Regions from separate parts of the Homo sapiens genome. Here region 1 is linked to region 2. Evidence: fine-mapped expression QTL. A gene starts in region 2. The other region holds a variant in brackets. All regions are shown on one strand. Distances are from middle to middle. Region 1 has its middle 4.6 kb from the start of OPLAH. Region 2 holds the start of WDR97 (WD repeat domain 97).

The links. PIP is the estimated chance that this variant, and not a neighbour inherited with it, causes the effect. A credible set is the group of variants that fine-mapping cannot tell apart.
Region 1: its variant is the best candidate, but not a certain one, in a credible set for the expression of WDR97 in blood mononuclear cells (TOPMed, PIP 0.66).

The regions. Positions count from the first base shown.
Region 1 is chr8:144,063,818-144,066,715 of GRCh38, reverse strand. It overlaps a transcript of OPLAH not described here and a transcript of EXOSC4 not described here. Among named protein-coding and RNA genes, the nearest start is that of OPLAH, 4.6 kb to the right of the region's middle. The variant A/G (reference allele first, on the strand shown) is at 1,629.
Region 2 is chr8:144,106,407-144,109,261 of GRCh38, reverse strand. It overlaps WDR97 (WD repeat domain 97), which reads right to left and starts at 1,523. Exons shown (of 24, transcript NM_001316309.2): 1 at 1,400-1,523; 2 at 1,067-1,203; 3 at 318-946; 4 at 92-213. The coding sequence starts at 1,511. It overlaps MAF1 (MAF1 negative regulator of RNA polymerase III), which reads right to left. Exons shown (of 8, transcript NM_032272.5): 5 at 2,798-2,855; 6 at 2,588-2,707; 7 at 2,299-2,427; 8 at 1,651-2,174. The coding sequence ends at 2,153. RefSeq lists an enhancer at 50-580.

The sequences.
Region 1 (2,898 bases), 43 kb after region 2:
TCCCAGCACTTTGGGAGGCCAAGGTGGGTGGATCACCTGAGGTCAGGAGTTTGAAAACAGCCTGGCCAACAGGGTGAAACCCTGTCTCTACTAAAAATACAAAAAAATTAGCCAGGCATGGTGGCACACACCTGTAGTCCCAGCTACTTGGGAGGCTGAGGCAGGAGAATTGCTTGAACCCAGGAGTCGGAGGTTGCAGTGAGCCGAGATGGTGCCATTGCACTCCAGCCTGGGTGACAGAGTGAGACTCTGTCTCAAAAAAAAAAAAAAAAAAAAAAAGAGAAAAACTCTACTTTGGCCAGGTGTGGTGGCTCACACCTGTAATCCCAGCACTTTGGGAGAACAAGGCAGGAGGCCAGGAGTTTAAGGCCAGCCTGGGCAACATAGTGAGACCCCGGGCCAGGTGCAGTGGCTCACGCCTGTAATCCCAGCATTTTGGGAGGCCAAGGCGGAGGGATCACGAGGTCAGGAGATAGAGACCATCCTGGCTAACACGGTGAAACCCTGTCTCTACTAAAAATACAAAAAAAAATCAGCCAGGTGTGGTGGCGGGCACCTGTAGTCCCAGCTACTCGGGAGGCTGAGGCAGGAGAATGGCCTGAATCCGGGAGGCAGAGCTTGCAGTGAGCTGAGATCACGCCACTGCACTCCAGCCTGGGTGACAGCAAGATTCCATCTCAAAAAACAAAACAAAACATAGCGAGACCCTGTTTCTACCAAAAAAAAAAAACAAAAAAACTAGCCAGGCATGGTGGTGCATGCATCTGTGGTCCCAGCTACTTGGGAGGCTGAGGTAGGAGGATCCCTTGAGCCTGGGAGGTCAAGGCTTCGATGAGCTATGATTGCACCACTGCACTCCAGCCTGGGTGACAGAGTGAGACCCCATCTCAAAAAAAAAAAAAAGTAAATAAAATAAAATAAAAAAATAAAAATACTCTACTCCATTTTCTTCCTAATTATAGGAATTATTTTATTGTAGTTGAGACAGAGTCTTATTCTGTTGCCCAGGCTGGAGTGCAGTGGCACGATCTCAGCTCACTGCAACCTCTGCCTCCCAGGTTCAAGTGATTCTCCAGCCTCAGCCTCCTGAGTAGCTGAGATTACAGGTGCCTGCCATCGCGGCCAGCTAATTTTTGTATTTTTTTTTTTAGTAGAGATGGGGTTTCACCATGTTGGCCAGGTTGGTCTCGAACTCCTGACCTCAGGTGATCTGCCCGCCTCAACCTCCCAAAGTGCTGGGATTACAGGTGTGAGCCCCTGCACCCGGCCGAGAATTAAATTGTCACAATTTCTGTTGGGATTCAGTACAGTTGCCCCCAGTCTCCTGGAGCACTAGTCTCAGGGGCACTGCCCCCACTCGCACAGGTGAGGGGCCCTGCGATGGCTCCACTCGAGTAGCCAGGGAAAGGAGTTTGAGAATCCCAGGACAGTCTACAAATCAGCAAGTGGAAACTAGACCATCAAACAAGCAAAAGAGAAAAATGATGTAAAATACATAATAATCATAATGTAAGAAAAAGCCAGAAAACCAAAGTAACTGTGCAGAAGTGTCCCTTTAAAGACAGATTGGAGGCTGGGCGCGGTGGCTCACGCCTGTAATCCCAGCACTTTGGGAGGCTGAGGTGGGC[A/G]GATCACGAGGTCAGGAAATTGAGACCATCCTGGCTAACACAGTGAAACCCCGACTCTACTAAAAAAAATACAAAAAAATTAGCCAGGCGTGGTTGCGGGCACTTGTAGTCCCAGCTACTTGGCAGGCTGACGCAGGAGAATGGCGTGAACCTGGGAGGCGGAGCTTGCAGTGAGCCCAGATGGCGCCACTGCACTCCAGCCTGGGCGACAGAGCAAGACTCCATCTCAAAAAAAAAAAAAAAAAAAGACAGATTGGATAGAAGAAGAAAGTCCTTTATGTGATCTAAAATGCAAACCACTGTCACCACTGAGGGTGAGGGTGGCTCTCCTGTCCCTGGGGAGGTGTGTCTTTAGGTCCTGGTCCTCAGCCTCTGGTGGGCCGCCTGGCCCATCCCCTTCCTTGAGGTTATGGCCCAGATGTGGTGCCTCTTCCAGGGCACCTGCCTGCTCGCTGCAACCTCCATGTGACAATGCCAAGGCCCTGTGCCCCCAGAAACAGGCCCAGCCTCCCTTGTGGTGGCTCTAGCACTGCCTGGTGCATCCCTTGGCCTGCAGCCCCCTCCCATGCTGTCCTAGCGTGCTCTCGGCTGGCTCTGCCCCTGTAGCCCTGGCCTGCCCTGGTTGCTGCTGTCCAGCTCCTGCTGTTGCTGGGCCCCATCCTGCAGGGCAGCCACGCACCCACCCTTCCTGATCCCTTCAGAAGCTGTGCCAACCGTGACTGCCGACATACCACACCTGGTTGCCTAAAACTATGTCCTGGCATGGCCAGGCCTGGAGGCTGTGGCTGGTGGCCAGTGGGCTGTCAGACGGGTGGGTGCGGAAGCCTGCATCCCATATCCCTTCCCCCACGACACACCTGGGCTTGGCCGGGTCAAAGAAGCTTCCATCTTCTAGGAGGAGGATTCCTGGAGTGAGCCAGAGACCTGGGACAGTTCTGGGCACCCACTGGCCATTTGGCCCTCAGGGGGCTGGAGGTCAGAGGTCAGGCCACCTCTGCCACGGGGTGGTTGGAACAGCTGGGTCCTGACCCTGAAGGCCCGGAATGCGGCTGAGGCGAGGGGGCAGGGGCAGCTGCTGACCTCACAATAGCAGGGTCTGCTGTCCCTGGCCGGCCTGCTGGCCCCCGCCAGCTGCCGCCGCTGGCTGCCAGGCATGTCCCTCCTCAGCAGCTATGAGGGCCTGCGGCAGGAGATCCAGCGGCTGGCACAGGAGAACGAAGAGCTGCGGCGGCTGGTGCAGCTCATCCAGGAGAACCAGGAGCTGAAGCTG
Region 2 (2,855 bases):
CAAGGCCTGGCCGGAGCTGCGGAGATGCTGGACAGCCTAGAGCGGCTGGAGGCAAAGGGCCGAGGCTCGGGGTGCAGAGAACTCAGAGCACCTGTGTGGCCCACGAACACCATCCGGATCTGCCAGTCAGCCTCCCACACCTTCACGGTGCTGTCCCGGGAAGCTGTCACCATTGCCTCTACTTCCTCGCAGTAAGCCAGGTCCGAGATGGTGCTACAGGTGGGGAATGGGAGAATCCCAATGGACTTAACATCGCCTTGTGTGTGAGGGCCGTGTGCCCCTACATGCCTGGCCCTCCCTAGGGGGATCCCCCTCACGTTTTGTGCAAATCCCGGCGCACATCTACGAGAGTCCAGGCATGCAGATCGAAGGTGAGCACGGCCGAGCCATAGGCCGCGAAGCAGCGCAGGACGTGGTGGGGAGGAACCGGCGCCACAGCCAGACGCATGAGCCTGCCTGTTGGGCTCGGGGGCGGGTGCAGTGCTGACCCTCGCAGCACCAGGCGGCGACCACCTGAACGGAACTGCCAGAGCGCCAGGCTGCTGTTCATCTCCGCAACGAGCAGCAGCCTGAGGTCGGGAACCGGCAGGCAGCAGGTGGGCGCCCAACCCGGGGCCCTGCCCACCCCCTGCTCGCTCAGCCACAGCAGGCTGAGGTTGGGCCTCAGAATTGCCAGCCCCGCGGGGCCCCAGCCTACAAAACGGCCCACGGCACCCAGCGGGCCCAGCACGGTCACCAGCCCCGTAAGCCGGACAGGCGCCAGCAGCGTCTCCTGTGCCCAGCCGTCTTCCTTGTGCAGGTGCAGGCGGCCCGCGCCGTCCAGCACCACGAAGCGTCCACCCACCGGGTCCTGCGCCACCGAGCGCAGCCCGGCTGCCACCTCCAGGCGGCGCAGTGGTTCCAGCCCATGCGTCAGGCGCGCCGCGCGCAGCTCGGCTCTCTTCTCCTGTGGGCCGGGGTGGGCGGGCCCGCAATCAAAGGTTGGGGCTACTCCGGCCTAGGGGACCCCTAAGGGAAGGCCCAGATCCGGAAAGAGGCCAGGAGGCGCAGGACAGGCACACCGCACCTTTTCCACGACTTCGTGGAGGCTGGTGCGCAGAAGCAGCCACAGCCGGCGGGCGCGGGCGCGCGGGGTCAGGCTTTGCCACTGTTGGCTGCTGGTCAAAAAGGGCAGGACCTGCGACGGCTCCGTGAAAGTCAACTCTGCGGGCAGGAACTGGAAGTTCTGCCACCTACAGCCTCAGGTCCTCGACCCTGACGGTTATGGGGAGCCCTCCTCCAGGGGCCCTGCCCTACCAGGGACTGCCCAGGGGAGTTTTGTTCCAGGGGACGGAACCCAAGCCCGAATGAGACCCACTTCCTAGCGGGATGCCCGGAGGGCGAGGCCAGGCCCCCTCACCATTCTTTTCGGTGAGCAGCCCAGGGTCTGGGACATCATAGCCATCCGCATCATACAGGTCCGAGTCCAGAACTAGGTTGTAGCCTTCTGCCTCCCACACCTCTGCCTCCATTTCAGCAACTGCGGTCCCAGAGCCCAACAGCTCCCAGGACTTAGCGGTCACGGCCCGCAGCGGCAGTTGCTAGGATACCAGATGCCGCCGGCCACTCCCACACCGCAGGCCCCACCCCCACACCGCATCAGGTCCACACTAAGTCACAGAAACTTTTATTGGAAAGAAACGAGCTGCAGCAAAGTGACACTCAGTGCACGCGGCCAAATGGGCGAGGTGGGGGTACAGGTGGGCACCGGGGCCGGCCCAAGACCAGAGCCGGTGACTGCTGGGGCCTGCTCGTGGGGCCTCCGGCCACAGACCCTTTGGGCTGGAGTGTGCAGGCCCAGTAGAAATACAAAAATAAACTCTGCGGTCCAGCTGTCCCTGCTGTGGCAGTTCATTTGGGCAGGGCAGTCGCTCCTCCCACCAGGCCCCCTGCTGACAAGTCCGGCCACAGCATGGGCAGCAGGAGTCTGAGGGGTGAGTGGGCATCCACAGGATGGAGCCAAAGGGCTAGGCAGGTATGGCCTTGGGCAGTGCCAGGACTGTGGCAGCGCCAGGGTCTGGCCAGCAGCTGGGGAGGCCCCAGGGGCCTCTCAGGTGGACAGGTCCAGGCATTGGTTGAAGCTGGATGAAGCTGGGGCCTCGGCTCCTCCTCATCAAATACAGATCACTGGGACCCTGGGCGGAGGTTGGCACACAGTGGGCCTTCAGGAGCCACCACTTAGACCAAGTAGAGGAGGCCCCCACCCTGTTGTACCCACTCCAGGCTTCAAGGACCCGGGTCATGGCCCCCATCACACACCTGTCCTCCTCCATGGTGCTGGTCTCCTCGGCCCCACTGCCCCCGCTTCTGCTTTCTTCCTCCACCTCCTCCTCCCCCAGCTCCATGTCCAGCTCGTTGCCTGCCTCTGAGGGTGTGTAGGTGGAGCCACTGAGGGGAGGCAGGGAAACCAGTTTCAGGACCCCTACCCAGGCCTGCTGCTGGCCCCAGGGAGGATGTTCAGGGAGGGCAAAGCTGGGTGGAGATGGCACAGCTGGGGAAGTTGTATCGGCCCAACAGGGAGGTGGGGGAGGAGGCGGGGGGTGCCCACCTGATGGAACGGCAGCTAAAGAAGACGATTCGCTTGAGCCGCTTGTTGTAGAAGAAGTAGTTGAAGGACCAGAGGCTACCATCCTCCCCGAAGGGATCTGAGTCCAAGTCTGGGTTATAGCTGGGGAGTATAGGGTGACAGGTGGTGTGAGGCGCCAAGTGCCCCACAAACCTGGAGGCCTGGAGGCCATCTGCAGGGATGCCGGCCCACCTGTAGATGTCACATTCAGCCAGGCAGATCTCCTCGTCCACCGCGTTCCACAGCTGTG